Regions from separate parts of the Homo sapiens genome. Here region 2 is linked to region 1. The links come from fine-mapping of genetic effects on gene expression. Tissue or cell type: whole blood. Region 1 holds a variant in brackets; the other region holds the start of a gene. All regions are shown on one strand. Distances are between the middles of the regions.

Region 1 (8,108 bases):
TGGGGTCCATGATTCGAGGCCTTGGCACATGGATGGTATTACTGGACTTTTCCTGGGCTAGAGGGGAGCACTGTCCTGAAGGGAGAGTCCCAGGCTCAACAGTATTCATCACAAGCTGACTGAAGGGTCCTTGGGCCTTGAGTGAACACTGATGTATTTGCTGCAGGCCTGGGGTGGTGGTGGGTCCTGGTTTTCTTTCTACTTTGGCTTTGTTTTTATTCTCTAGGTCTTGGCTTAACCTGGTCCCTGCCTCTCACTGCTTAAATAGAGTAGTTTAAAGAATACTGATTAATGGATTAATATCAAATTGAAAGGAGCACTTCCAAAACCTGTGCAGAGTATCTCTCTTGTTCTGTTCTCATATTCATCTATTCCAATGACTTGGAGAGGACAGTGTGCTTGTCAAATTTTCAAACTCTATACAGTAGAACTGACATTAATATATTTTATATTTATTCAGTGCTTTGCCATTTCAAAAAATTTCAGGATATGGTATCTCATTTGATTCCAGGAATGATAGGCACAGATGAAAAGATCAATTTCAGTTCAGTATGAAGGACAGCTTTCCATAAATTGGCCTGTCCAAATGAAACACCAAGCTTCACAAAGAAGTAAGCTCCACACAGTGAAGACAGTTTTAGTAAACAGTAAAAGTTGACTCTCAGGGATTTTGTGGAAAGATCCTTGGTTTGAATGAAAGCTTGGATTAAATGGCTGTGTGTGTGTATGTGAGAGAGAGAGAAGAGAAATACACATTAATTTAAATATATTATCTAGGGAGAGAGAACAATTGAGAACACAGGCTACTGTTTTCTTAAAACCTTTGTTAAGATAACTCCCAAATAGACTTTTAATATAGGACCTTAATCACATGTAGTTGAACAATTCAACGTTTTTAAGGTTTTATTTCAAAAGTTCAAGAAGTCTGAAGTAGTATAGGTCTAGATCATGGTTTCTGGATTACACCAGGGGTGCTGACTCTTCTAAAGATGAAATAGGCCCCAAACTGAAGTGTTAATGAGAATATCTGATGGTTTAAGGGCAAGTGGAAGCAAGATGCATGTGAGGACTGAAGACATCACACAGGCATAGAAAGAAGGATGCGAGTGTGGAGAGCAGCAGCCTGCAGAAAAAGCTGGGGTGGCCAGTTGAAGGGAGTGGATATCAAACCAGCATAGGGCAGGGCTAGCATGAGGTCACTGCCCTACTCAATTAGAAGCAGAAGAATTAAACCAAATACCAGAACTGGTTTGCTTTGCTTTTTCCATAGTTGGACTAAATGCCTCCCTTCATGACTCCAAGACCAGCTCCAGTGGAATGTTTTAGTGAAATGCTCACTTGGCTTAGTTTAACTTTGCCTTAAAAAATGATCATTCCATGACTTCTTTGAAAATTTTGTTTAATGATTTTGTGATACTGGGGCAGGTGGGGCAAGAAAGGAACAGTATAAAGGATTTGGCAACTGAATAGACCAGAGTAAAATATTATTCAGTGTGAGCTTCTGTTCTTGTAAGAACAGAAAAATATCCTCTTAAATTTTTTTTTATTATTTGAATAATATTAAACTAAATGCTTATAATAAAGTTAGGCAGAAACATTTAGAAATTATAATTATAATCCAGTTTATTTGTTTAAGAAACACTTGTATGCTATATACCAGGCGTTGTGCTTGGAACAAGTTTTTAAAAAGTAATTTTTAAAGCCCTTACAACCTATTCAGCACACACACAAACACAACTGCATAATTTTAATTCTTTTTCAGTTTGATAGTAGTAATCTTCCCTTGGGCCAACACATTTTCTTTTAGATTCCACTGAGGTGGTTTTTTTTTTTAAGGTAGTATGTAATATTTTAATCTCTTGCCATCTTTCATATTTGACTCATCAAGAAAAGGTTGTGAAAAGTCTTAGTTTGCCCTTTTTTTATCTTACATTTTTTTTAATCTTACATCTGCATTGCCACTGACAGGAATGCCTTAGTAATATTCCTAGAGATTCCAGATGTTCTTCAAATTTTACCGTATGCCTGCCACTTGGAAAGTGTTCAGTATAGTATATGTTGCTTTTTTTTTTTCCAGAGTAACTTGATTATAAATTACAGACAATGCTCTGTAAGTAAGTTAAACACCTAGCACCCAGATCTTGGTTTTGTTGTTGTTTAACCATTCTACATTAAAAAGAACCAGGGTTCCTTGGAGAAACATCTGATTCTAGGACTAGGGCAGGAAATATACAAGACAAGCCTGGAGCACCTTACAGTGTCAGAAGGCAAGGCAGTTCTCAACAACAAAACAATAAAACAAACAGAACCCAAAGACCACAGTGATGGGGATCTGTCAAAAAGACACAGAAGCCAACTGAAAGAGCTCCTAATAGCCAAAGCTGAAACATTTGAGCAACAAAAGCAAGTAGTATTAGATTATAACCCACAGTATAAAATAAATATTTATGACTCCAAATGACGTAAAAAATGATTGAATAAAAGAATAAGTAGGCGAGACTAGACAATTTTTTCATGCAAAAGAACAAGTCTGCCCTCAAGGAGGTGAAGCATAACTCCCTACTCCTTAAGTTTGCCCTGTGTATAATAACTTCTTTCCAAAGAGTAAAATAAGGAAAGGTAAATTAGAGTCACTTTAGAGTATAGAACCCTGACAAACACTGCCCCAGCCAGGTGGTCAAGGTTAATATCAGCAGTCATAAGTCATAATAGATAGTATGTACTCTTGATGTGATAAGAGTGGCACTTTAACTCTGTGCTCTTTCTCCCAAACACCCATAATTGTATGCTAATTATGAAAAAAAAAATTAAACAAATCACAATTGCAGAACAGCCTATAAAATACTTAACTGGCACACCTCCAAACTATCAAGGCTAATAAAATCAAGAAAAATCTGAGAAACTGTCACAGCTAAGAAGAGCTTAAGGAGACATGATGACTAAATGTAATAGGGTATCTTGATGGGAACTTGGAACAGAAAAAGGACACTAGGAAAAAACTAAGAAAATCTGAATAAAGCATGGACTTTACTTAATAACAATATATCATATTAGTTCATTAATCATAACAAATATTGCATACAAATTTATTGTCATTAATATTTGGGGAAACTGGGCATGAAGTATATGGTAACTCTTTGTATTATCTTCACAATTTTTCTCTATATCTAAAACTATTTTAAAATAAAATTTTATTAAAAGAAATCTAAATATGTGATCTTGTGAGTAAGTAGAAATTCTGTTATCCACCTTTCAAAGTTGTAAGATCTGGTACTATTTGAGATAATCTCAGTGTCCGGAATCACTGCATTTTGAAGGTATGAATGATTATATGTCTTGGTGTGTCTTGGAGGCACTTTGCTAATAATGCTTTTTAAAAAAACATTTGTAAAAACAAAAGGTAATGAGCTGTCCATATTCAGAGACATTAATTCCTTTGGATCCCTCAGGCAGCATTACATGTCCTGGTAAAAAGCAATGGATTAACTCTGTTCTGTCCAATACTGTAGCTATTAGCATATGTGATTACTGAGCACTTGAAATGTAGCTGGATAAAACTGAGATGTGCTATTGGTACAAAATACATACTAGATTTTAAAAACAAAAGCAAAATATTTTGTTAATAGTTTTTTATACTGTTTACATGTCAAAATTATGTTTTGGATATAGTGGGTTAACTTAATATATTGTTAAAATTTATAACACTTGCTTTTTTTTATTCTAGTATGGCTAATTGTAGCCACTTGAAATTTAAAAATAGATGTGTGGCTCACATGTCTATTAGACAGTGCTGGATTAAGTGGATCCTCGGAGACTGGAAGAGTTAATGGATTTCCCAAAAGCAAACAACGTCCCTCAGAGAAATTGTCAGACTCTGTTGTGGGTTTCTAGGCTCTCACCACAAATAGCTGGATATGTGCAACATTAAGGCAATTTCCCGGAGATGACTCTTGCCACCATGAAAAGCCACCTGCAGTGACAAGAGGCTTTCTTGATTTTTCTCTCTTATTTCCTTGAAGATTGTGCTTAAAAAGGAATGTTGGAGAGTAGTTTCTTGAAGGATTTGTGAGTGAGGAAATTAAAATGTATAAGGAAATATGAACCACTATA[T/C]AGAGCACTTCTAATGCTACCTTTTTTTTTGGATGGGTTTGCCTTGGAGTTGGAGATGTAGTTTTTTCCAAACCTCTTTGGCACAACATATTTTAAAGCATGAAAATATTCTAAGGCAGTATCCACATTACAATAAAGCAACTGGCAGAAAAATGAAATGTTAACAACTTAGTTGTTTGGACTACAGAGACTATCAGACAACCAACATGAACAATGCACAGGAGACATCTTACTTTGCTAAATGTAAATTTCCTCTTGGTAGATGAGTGAGGAAGAACAAGTTCCAGCTGGTTGGCGGGCAGGCGGAGGGGTGTGGAAAATGTGTGTGGGTTTTTTTTGAAAAAAATTATTTTTAACAAAATTGTGTTTTTTAAGTTGTATTTCCTTGAGTACATTATCTTGAGAAAAAAAGAAAGAAAAGCCAAACAGAGTGTTTTAGTTTTACATAAGTAATATAGGTAGATCTGATCATAAATTCCTAAATTTTACCAAAGTTTGTCATTATAAGCAAGATAAATCAATTGTCAGTAATTACTGTCACCCTCTGCTCTGAGTGGCTCTTAGAAGGAAATTATGTGAAGAGAGATAAGCCCTGTTTTTTCAAGTAAGAGCCTTGGGGAAAGGGCTCAGGGTACAGCTTGCCTCACTCTGATGGGCAGAATTGAGTGTTGGATGTTAGGAGACGACAGCATAAAAATACTGTGTTATAATTTATGATTTGACTATTCATGCAATGCCACTTACGTTGGCACTGCAGGAGATTTACCTTAAAATTATATCAAATAACCTAGGCTAGCAATCTATGTATTTACACATGCAAGAGATGGATGAGAAAGTGGAGGCACAGGAAGCCAAGTTATTTGTAGTTGTATAGTCACACAGGGGTTCTAGACCGGTGGTCTATAATCCTAGGCTCTTTGTATGAGCCTTCTCTGCCTCTCTTACAAATACCATGCACAGCTATCACACCTAACCAGTGTACTAGAAGATTACAAGACACCTAAATGCCAGGTTGGAGAAGCACAGGTTGATTGAGCTTGATTCTTTAAGCTGAAAGCAGAAAGTCTGCTTCTACCTTTTCCTGTAGTCTCCTGGAGAGACCATCCCTCCTCAGCATTATGGGAGCTGCTCTTTGTTAAAGGCTCTGTCTGAGTGGTGTATTTTTGCCTCAGAGGCTCAATTTGATCAATTCATATGCCTATGTAAAAACCACCAAGCTTCTAAAGCGATCACATTAGGCTCACGGTGGGAGTCTCTACACATGAAGAGCAGGACATGTGTCCACTGCATTTCAGCATCTGTGCAGGACAGCCGTGCGTGCTGCTCTGCCCTGGGCAGAAGCTGTCTCAGTTGGCCTGCTTTATTCCAGCTCTGAAACCCAAGTCCCATGCTAAGGGCCAGAGGAGAGGTTCATGCTGCATTAGGCTAGCTCTGCTGAGAAAGGCTGGAGAAACACATCAGTAATAATTTAGCACTCAGCAGCTGCAAGAGTGCAGGCCCCTGCCAAGTGCCAGCCTTTGGTTCTCCTCTCTACCAGGCAGTAGCTAGTTCATTCTCTGGGCACTCAGCCACATTTCAGAGAGAGCCGTACTGGTGATGGCTGGGACAGCACAGACACACAGGACAGCACAGACACATAGCCCCCTCAACAAGGCACTACTGTGAACTATCCTGCTGCACAAACTGTGTTTAAGAATTGAGACGTTAGCAGCTAAGAGGATACAGGGAATGGTTGACTTAAAGAATTATAAAGCCAGTGATAAAATATAAAGTTCTAAATAAACACATTATAATAAGCAGAACATGATTTAGAATACATGCTGCTGAGTGGCTTCTAAATGAGACCCAATTTTAAATACACAGATTCTGGAGCTCAATTTGTTTCCTAACTGAAAAATAAATAAACAATCCACCATTTCCTGTCAGATCCCAGGGTGGTTTCCTGGAACCAAAAGAATCAATCATTCCAAACATAAGATAATCAATGTATTGGAGTGGGGGCGGGGGCAGGAAGGGGCGGGAGGAGAGGTAGGGTTTATGAAGCCTTGGCTGCCTCAGCAGTGTGTAGAAGGCATCTCAAATCTACCCAACATAAAATCTCATTCATATCCCCCTAGTTTTTCACCCTTAATCTCATCTAGATCAGATCTATGATTTCAACGACAAACCTTGTTCACCATGGCATTATTGCAGCACTCTATTTTTATTGGAAATGGCAGCTCTTATTCCAACAGACCCCTTGGCTTCTGTGTGTGGCAATCTGAGTTTGTGTCAGTTGTCAGCCTAAGGGGTTAAAATTCATTTTAAATAGCAGCACGGTGGGTGCAATCCTTCCTTTCACTTGCCTTGGGAATAATTTAGCAATCTGCATTTAAAGTCACAAAGTCTATTTGGGTTTGAGAGAGCAAATTTTATGACAATTAGACTTGTTTTTTGAAGGTGAAGGAAAAACCAAAATGGCCATTTAATAGACATTGAGCTAATCTGACATGTTGCAGGAAAATTTTTGAAGGCTAACAATAGGTTAATTCTGTAATACTTAAGATAGATGATAATGCTATTGCAGTCAACATGTTTTTTAAATCTGTATACTTTTTTTTTTTTTTCAAGAAAGAAAGAACCTTGAAGCATCCTGTGGTCTTAATCTCTTAGGCGTTCTAAGGAATTCTTCAGCCAATTAATAAAGTGCCCCTTCACTTGAAGTCTATGAAAGCCAACATTTGTGGTGAGCAGGGAACGTCAGTTAATCACATATTAGGGATGATTCCTTTGTTCATTGTGCAAAAGTGGTTTCTAGCAGACATTCTTATATTCCCATACACAATATTTATCTTCTGAAAGCCAAACGAATTCAAACAAGCCAATGTGACCTTTAAATAGTGTTTTTTTTCTGTCTCTTGGAAAACAATTAAGGGGTTTCACTATATTAGTGGGATTTCCCCTTTCTTCAGTCTTCAAAAGATTTTTCTTTCATCTTCTTTTTCTTTCTCTCCAGCTACAAAATGTGCTCATTACGGGCCTGTCAGCTACAAAAGGGAGACTTTTTCTTTTTCAGCAGGTATGAAAATCTCAATAGCTTCTTTAATCTCCAGAGAGTTCTCTTCTGCTCTATTTAATAAAACTCAGCACTTCAGTTATCAGAGTCATTAGAAGGAAGCAGGATTGGAAGAAGGAGCCTTAATTTATTTTGGTGACATATGTAATTAAACCATTTTTTTCCCAATGGCTCTATATTTTTCCACTACCTTTTTTTTCTTTCAGAATATTTCTGAAGAAAATCTCCTCATATGGAAAATGAAGATTAAGCAGCAATAAAATAAAATACCCACTCCTTCAGAAGCCAAAATAATTCTTTTACCAGGCAATTAGCACAAATAAGGGCCAGGATGCCATTCACCCCCAAATAAACCTGATTCCCTTGAATATCATTGGCACTTTTTTTACTGTCTTTTTCTCTCAACTAATCTGAAACATATTTGATGAGCCAAGTTTGCTCGATGGTCCTGTACAAAAGGATGTGAGTTTGATAACATTAAAGGGCTACAAATCTCTGTGCACTGTAGACATGACAGAGAAAGTGGATAAAGTGCATCTTCTGAAGCTACAGTCAGAAATCCAGCACTACGTTAGCACATGGCAACCAAGCTCAATTAATTATTTTTTTCTAGTTAATTATTCCTTAAGGAACCAAAAAAGTTAAAAAGTTGCAATTAGTTGAAAATACAAAATATTCTAAAAATTATCAACCTTAGGTCTGGGGGAAAGTGGATTTCAATGGCTCTCCACTGTCACCCATATCTCGGTACCCCAAAATTTAGTGGGTGTGTTATAGAATAAGCCCTCCCCCTAATCCTAACTGATGATTAATTCAAATGATTTTTTTTTTTTTTTTGGAGACGGAGTCTCGCTCTGTTGTCCAGGCTGGAGTGCAGTGGCACAATCTCGGCTCACTGCAACCTCTGACTCAAGGTTAATCCATCAATTGATGATCATTCCTT
Region 2 (8,108 bases), 440 kb after region 1:
TGTTAATAGATTATGTGCATGAAAGAGATTTTCCAGTAAGGGAGATAGATTTACTGAACTATTATCCTTCCTTCATCCATTTGTAGTCAATGGGATGTTTTTTAAAATGATGTCTAGCTGAACCAGCCAATGGAGACAAAAATATTTATATATAATTTTCCTCTAAGTTCACTAGTCATTTTATAGATCAGTTATAACTTTGGCTACTCCAATGAGTTAATTTCTTTCTAGAGACATTATAAACTCCTTAAAGATGGAAAATAATTGTTACTTTTTTGAATAATGCCTACTATCTAAAACAATGCACATAAAAGCTGCTCAATAAACTTTTGTTGAATTGAGAGAAAATATAAAAAATTGAAAGCAGTCTGTTTGTAATAAGTATTTGCTAAGTCTTACAGATCTTCTCTTTTTTTTGGAATTATTGCAACAAATATTTGACCTTTGATTTGTAGGATTAAAATGTGATTTCTCATATTTTAATAGGAGCAAGCATTAGTCCTGCAATTCTTTTTGTCAATAGAATAAAAATGGAATGTATGCTTGCTGCTTCTACATGCCGGTTGATACCCATGCTGAACACTTTTCTTACAACACAGAGGTTTCCTTGTTTTCTGTCTTGCGTTCTACCTTTGCTCACCACAGAGACATTAATGATGCCATGTGTCTTTTTGCACCATCAGTGCAGCAGCTTTCATTATGCTCCTTGTCTCGGTCCCACTGTAGTCTAATTAAATAAATGGAAACGGGTAGTCACTGAAAATAAACAGCAACTGCAAAAGTTTTGCCTCTTAAGAAACCTTCTGCATTGTATTCCGCCCTGCCTCATTGATTCTAAGATCTCTACCGCTTCCTTGTGTTCAGAAACCAGACTCTTCAGTTTGTCTTGCTTCAGTCAGACAAATGCTTTATAAAAATGACCTATATTTTTCAGACTGTGGGGAGAGAAGAAAAAGACTTTGAGAAAGTGACTAAGGAGGGAGTAAGAGTGATACAATCTTTGATTCAATTTAGTTGGACTGTGTTCTTTATGCCTTCATCTTTTTCTTTATAAAAAAGATAGCGTTTTTGATGCTCTGCTCCAGGCAGCCTCCCAGGGTGAGTGCAGATGTGCTGAGCCATTTGGCTGCCTTGAGGACCGGCTCAGAGAGCCTCTCTTCTCACTAATGAAGTCATCTCCTCTCGGCAGCCCGGCCTCTCCCATCACTCCATGTTGGAACTTGGCTTTGGCTTGCATAGTTCTGTCGTGATGTAGATGGTCTTTCAGTTAAGTTCTAGAGAAATCTGCTCAACCATGAACAGGACATTTACAGCACAGGAGAAAAAAAAATTTATTAAAACAAATATTTTACTGTAACATTTTGATTTGGGGGTTGGAGAGCAAAAACTCAATATCTGATGTCTGGGAAAAATCTAATGTTTTATGGCTTTCTAAGGAAATTTGTCTGTGTTTAATTTATCAGAGCAATTTATATACTTCGGGTTAAAGCACAATGAGATTGCCACCATCACTTTGCCTTTTGCAAGATTTCTTTTTTAAGAATAAAAAGAAGGCAATAAAGACCTTGTATTTCTGCCTTTCCTAGAAAGCCAAAGAGAATTCAAAGTGCTGGATGAAATGTCTGTCCCTAATTTGCAGTGTTTTATTTAAAAAAAAAATTATGACACAATCTTAGAGGATAGGCTTCCTTTTTCCAGGGTCTTTGAAAGTTAAAAGTACATTTTTAATCTGTAGCATTACTGTATCATCCAGTGAGGATAATTTGCTTAGTTGTGCCTAGGACCAGTCAGATCAAGGAGTTGAAACTAAGCTCTTTCTGAATTTGAATGGGACTGGAATCTTGTCATCCCTAGAGCAGCAATAGATGATGCCATGTCTAAGAACACTTCACCTGATCAATAAAAAAGGAGAAGTCTGAAATGTAATCCTAAAGAACCTCAGAAGGAGGTTTAGATGAAGATAATAAAATTCCCTGGAGACACATCTGCCATCTACACCTTTCCTCTCCAAGTCATTGGCTTGCTGCCCCTGAGCTCAGCCAAATTCCCAAAGACAAGATCAAAGCAAGGAAGCAAGGCACATAGCTTCTGGCTTATGGTTTCTTTTAGACACAAGCATTGTGAATGAAGATCTTGCTTTATTTATACCTGGGATCTTGGAGTTTTCACAAAGAATATCCCCAGTACAAGGATGTGATTTAAAGGGGGACTCACAGAATAATATTTTAATTACTGTTTGATTCATACTTGAGTGTAATGGACAAATAAATACAATTTTAGTTATAAAACCTGAAAAATATATATTTTCCCATTCAAAAACTTCTGATAGTTTTGTCAGGCATTGGAGAATCAGAAATAAATGCTCTCTCATTTTCTTTCTCTTGATGAAGGAAAGTCATTAAAAACAGTTACATAGAAATAATAATACAACTGTAGACTCTATTCTAAATATAGCTGGTATGTTTTCCTTTTTCTTTTTTATCCATTCTCCATTTTAGACAGCTAGAGGGGAAAGTCTGCCCTAGAGATAGAAAGAAGATATCCATGGGGTATAATTTCATTTTAGTTATCTGATAGCCTGAAGAAGTATTTAATTTTCTGAATAATAATGTTACAAGTCAAAGAAGAGAAAAGACAGGCAGTTTAAAGCTTTTCAACATTGTGCATATTCTAATTCCTTAAGTCAGCCCTGAGAAAGTGCCTTTGTCCTGTAGAAGTATTTGGTCAAGTGTTGTGAAGTCTATTGGCATTAAAAGAAACTAAAAATTTTGGAGGATTAGAGAATCAAATTTGGCAACATAAATGAAAACATCTCAGAATGTAAAAAGTATCTAACCCATCACTTTCAATCATGTTCCATTATATACAGATGGCATTATTTATAGTGAATGTTAACTATTAACATTTCCCTAAAAATGGGCATTAATCTGCTATTAGTTGCTTGTTTCTGATCTAGTTCTCCTTTGTTGAAAGGTTTTACTTAACTGTATCATAAAGGGACAAAAGGGTAAAAGATAATAAGCTTTTCAGACTGGCAGATCTGTCACTTACAAAATGGCCTTGGGCAGGTTACTTGAACTCTTTGAAACTCAACTAGATTTACTCAAATTTAAGAATGAGAATACAAATCCACATCTTGAAGTGTTTCACAGAAAGGTCTATCTTAATGTCTGGAGTATATATTTCAATGAACATTCATTTTATTTTATTTCTCTCCATTCCTGAATCAAGCAATCTTGAATCTAAAGTTGCTATGATTAGCACTGAAAAGACCACTGGACTATTAATTGTGTGACTTTGGGACAGTAACTTTCTGCACCTTAGTTTGTTTACATGTTATACATGAAGGTTGAAGTCTGATTCTGCTCTGTGACTATCATTCTAAACATCTGATGAAATCAAATTTCAGTGTTTGGAATGGTAGTACAATAAATTTACTAAGAATAAATAATTCACTGCAAAAACACATTGATTTCCAAATGATGTAACTGACAGTTATATTACTGCAGAGGGCTGATAAATAACAAAAGAAATGAAAGATGCACATGGTGAGAACTGAAATTATCCTGACAAGTCTTCTACCTGTTTATCACTTAAAATCAATGACCATGCTGAATGCCTACAAATTACAAAATATAAAAGAAATCTTATAAATGCGCATGTACAGGAGTCTAAGTTACTAAAAGTTTTAAAGCATAAGTTTAAACCAAACTAATCAAAGAAGTTGAGAGGAAAAATTGGCTTTCATCTTTAATCACTACTGTTTTGAGGTCCTATGTTTAATATAATTTTCTAAGTAGAGGCTTCAGAGAGAAGAGTTGTGAGGATACTTTCATATTTGTGTAGAAGGAAAAGTTTGCCATCCATTCTAGTATCCCTAGTGTTATACTGATGTGCACCTTGGATTTATTTTGTTCCTATTGTATAAACTCATACTTGACTTCAAAGAAAAGGAAAATCCAAAGTCCCTCTTTTCTAAGGGGACAGAAATCCTTTGTGTCAACTGTTTGACCCTTTTCTCTGTAAGGTCCTATTGGAAATCTTTTGTAACACAATGCAGGGGACTCTTCCATGTGTTGATGCTGTTTACACAGTGGGGTGGGCCTGACTGAAGAAAAAAAATCGCATATACGCATGAAAGATTATGGTCTTATTTCCGGAAAGCATGAAAGGTGATTGATACTTCCAAGAAGTCCCTGTTACTCAGGAAAATTATCAAATATTCTACTCAGAGATACTTGGAAAGACTGAAGGAAAGGAAGAACGAAGAAAGCAGAATCTAGACTTATGTGGGGAGAGATTTGTGGCAGAGGAAAAGTATTCTCTTTGAATCCGACAAGGGATTTGCCTGGGGGAATTTCCTGTCCAGCCTTTTATTACCAGGGTCTTTTGAAGCCGGGCTCCCCATTGGGCAGTTCCCTGGGAGTGCAGTGGGGAATTCTTACACTTTCCCTCTAGGTCCCCGAAGGATCTCGTTTTCTCAGTGTCTCTTTCAGGTTGGCAGGAGCCTTGAGCCTGACACTTCCCTTTGATGGGACAGGCAAGCTCTGTGGGCGCGTAAACACGCTGTAACCAAGTTCTTTGCTGATTTTACAGTTTTGTGTGCTCCCGAGAAGAAGTGATCGTACTCAATTGTCTATTGCTGGCCTGCCCCCTAAGAGCCTGGGGGCTCCTTTCCCCTAACCCAGAACTAGCTGCACGGGGGGCGGGGAAATGGGGGTGGGGAAGGAGTGGGAGGGCAGTGGTTTCCGCGAGCAGAGCGATGTTACTGAGTGAGTCCCTGAATGGGGAGCGCTGCTGTCCCCAAGCCGATTGGTACTTCTTGTCAGGAAGAAACGCCAAGAGGTGGGAGTGCCTGGGGAGGGAGGCAGGCGGTCCCTACCGCAGGCGCGGGGAGCTGCCTTTCCGCCCCTCCGCCTGCTTTCCAAGCCTGGACTCTTAGGAGTGGCTGAAGCTGCGGAGCGCTTTTGGAGCCTGTGAATGAACCCTCCTCCTCTCCCTCCTCCTTCTTCTCGCTGAGTCTCCTCCTCGGCTCTGACGGTACAGTGATATAATGATGATGGGTGTCACAACCCGCATTTGAACTTGCAGGCGAGCTGCCCCGAGCCTTTCTGGGGAAGAACTCCAGGCGTGCGGACGCAACAGCCGAGAACATTAGGTGTTGTGGACAGGAGCTGGGACCAAGATCTTCGGCCAGCCCCGCATCCTCCCGCATCTTCCAGCACCGTCCCGCACCCTCCGCATCCTTCCCCGGGCCACCACGCTTCCTATGTGACCCGCCTGGGCAACGCCGAACCCAGTCGCGCAGCGCTGCAGTGAATTTTCCCCCCAAACTGCAATAAGCCGCCTTCCAAGGTAATCACGTTTCTTTTGTTCCCCCCTTAAAAAACAAAAACAAAAAACTTATAGAAAAAAACCCGCGAGCTTAGAAAAAAGAAGCAATTGGTAGAAGGCTTTAATTAAGGCAAAGAGCTGTAAGGCGAAGTTAAGAAAATGTAGGCACTTAAAAAATGCAGGTAACTTTCATAAGGGCTTTTGGGGAGAGGCATACAGAGGGACCTTGGTGTTGAAAAAGATTCAGACAAAAGAAACCCAGGGTGGGGTGGGGGGTAAAATGACTAACGGAATTGGGGGAAGGGAGGGAATAAATTGTAAAGAAATCATAGAAAAGTGGTGGGTTCTTGAGCTGGAGAGAAGAGAGGGACCTTTGGCACTTTGATTTTTTTGTTGTTGTTGTTCTTAACACGCTCGAGGCAAAAGTTTGAATGGGGACTACCAAGACTTGCCACAGACAAGTCCCCGAAGCCGCCTTGGTGCAGGCCACCTGGTTTCCCAGCCCCTGGTGTGTGGTCAGTGCCTGGTGTTCCTGGAAAGCCACTCCCGGGCAGCTCCTGACAGTGCGACCCGGCGCCCAAGCAGCCTGGGACCTTGCGCGGACCTGACCCCTTCAGACCGCAGGCAGTCTGGGAGGAGGTCCGGCCGGGGGAGGTGCAGGATCCCCGCCGTGTCTCTTTGACGACTTGGGGACTGTCACGGTTCTCTCCCGGCGCCCCTGGGTTCTTTTGTCCTGCACGCGGTGCGAAGGGGCCAGCAGGGAAGGAGCAGAGGATGGGGGGTGGGGTTGTTGGAGCCCCGCGGAGGTCTGGGAGGCCCCTGGGCGGGAAAAGCCTGTTCTGAATCGGCAGGGATGTGCAACAATTTTTCTCACCCTGAAGAGTGAAATAGGGTCTGTCGCTCCCATCTCAACAAGCAAACCGGCACCCAGAGCGCACTGCAGACAAAGGTGGCTCGGGGACCCGAATCAGGGGCCTCTGGGTCAGTCCTCTCGCCCAGACTACAGGAGTCCTCCGTTTCCTTACATATTCCCCACCCTCTCCTAGTTCTCCGCTCTAGTTGAGCAACTTTACTGGCAGGTCTAGCGGCAGCGGCGCGCGCGTGTGCCGGGAGCCCCGGGGGACGTCCTCGGCTGGAGCGCCCCACCGTCCTGCAGAGGCGTGGGCGCTGTAGGGCGACATCCCTGGTGCGTGCAGACCTAGGGCATCCGGGTTGTTCTGGCCCGCGGTCTGTGTCACTGGGCGTGGAGCGGTCTGGGTGTTAGGCAGAGGAGAGCGGGGTAGAAAAATAGTGTCATAGCCTAAACTATTTGCTCTCCAATCCAACTGCGTCTCGGCAAGTCCTGCATGTCCCTGGGAGATGCTGCGGGAAGGGGGAGAAATCTACACGGCGCCTGGAGAGTTGTCCTGCCGCGCGCACACCCGCGGCAGAGTCTCTCTGGGTCGCGTTCCTCATCTTTGTGTCTCCCTCTGTCTCCATCTTCTCTGCCTCCCTTCCCCTCTCCCAGCCTCTGTTCTCTCTCTCTAGCTTCTGCGTCCCCTCCCCCACAGCTGACAAATGAATGGCTAGTGTGAAATCCCTGCCTTTCCCGTGCTCCAAGGCAGCAGGGAGGGAGGAGCGAGGGAGGCGGTGCGCTCCTTCGGATCTGCCCCCAGTTCAGCTCACAAGACTTGCAGAACCTAGATGTCTAGGAATTGGGAGTTTTGCGGCGGGTGTGGGCGCCCCCTGATGGAGAAGTCCCGCACAGGCGGAGAAAAACAAGCCCCCCAGACCAAGCGAGCATCTTTCACAACCTTGTGTTCAAGGATGGAAGGCCCTAGTTTTCCCTTAAGTCATTCATTTTGCACTCCACAATCTGCGGCGTACATCTAGGAGTTTGGAGGACCCTGAAAAAAGGTCTTGGTCTGTGCAAAGTGCAGAGATGCCTTCTCGCGAGTCGGCTGGAACGCACGCGGCGCCCTGGGTCCAGTTCGCCGCTTAGTGGACGAACGCACATGGCCAGGGTGGAGCCAGGTTTCGGAGGTCTAGACGCGCCACCCTGGGCGTCTTTAAGAAAGATAATACACATACCGTGCTCTCAAAACCCATGACCACTTGAACCCAACGCTAGGGCCCCGCCCCAGGATATTGCAAAAGAAGGGCTCCTAATCCAAAACTTAAACTTCCTCAACTTCAGGGCGGGCGTCGGACGGGAAAGTGGAGAGAAGGCGGGCAGTGGGAGGAAAAAAGAAAGGGAAGGAAGGGAAGTGGAAGGAAAGAGGACCGTGGAGGGGAGGAAAAGGAGAAAGGAACGGAGATGGGGCAGATGGCATTCAAACAGCCAGGAACGGACCGGAAGGGTTCGTTTCGGGGTTTGGGTCTGAATTTCGAGACTCGTTTTAGGATACTCTTTTCCCTTTCCCAGCGGCAACAAATGTGACTGCAGAGGCGTGCCGGGATGGAAGGGTGGGAAAGAACTAGACAAGCGGAGGTGGTCCAGCCCCGCCCAAAGGGGCTGGGTCTGGGGCCCGCCCCCACTCGCTCACCTCGCGCCAAGGGAGGACCCGCAACGGGCGCTCCCCGCAGCGGCTGGGTTAGCCAGCCGCCACGTGGGTTGGCGCTTCGGCTCCCAGCCGAGACGGGTGTGACTTCCTGGGCTCAGAGACTGCAGTACAGCCGCACAGGCGGCCGGCGCAGCCGAGGCCCCCACCCACCGAGGCCAATGGGGGCGGGGCGGGGAAGGCAGGGCCCAGCTTAACCGAGAGAGCCGAGTGGCCTCGCCCCCAGGATTCGGG

Evidence for each region. PIP is the estimated chance that this variant, and not a neighbour inherited with it, causes the effect.
Region 2: it holds the start of VCAN, and the variant in region 1 is fine-mapped to the expression of VCAN in whole blood (TOPMed, PIP above 0.99).

What each region holds. Positions count from the first base shown.
Region 1 is chr5:83,030,341-83,038,448 of GRCh38, forward strand. No RefSeq gene overlaps it. Among named protein-coding and RNA genes, the nearest start is that of TMEM167A, 43 kb to the right of the region's middle. The variant T/C (reference allele first, on the strand shown) is at 4,111.
Region 2 is chr5:83,466,669-83,474,776 of GRCh38, forward strand. VCAN (versican) reads left to right here and starts at 5,076. Exons shown (of 15, transcript NM_004385.5): 1 at 5,076-5,355. RefSeq lists an enhancer at 5,505-6,377 and silencers at 7,810-7,899, 7,930-8,108.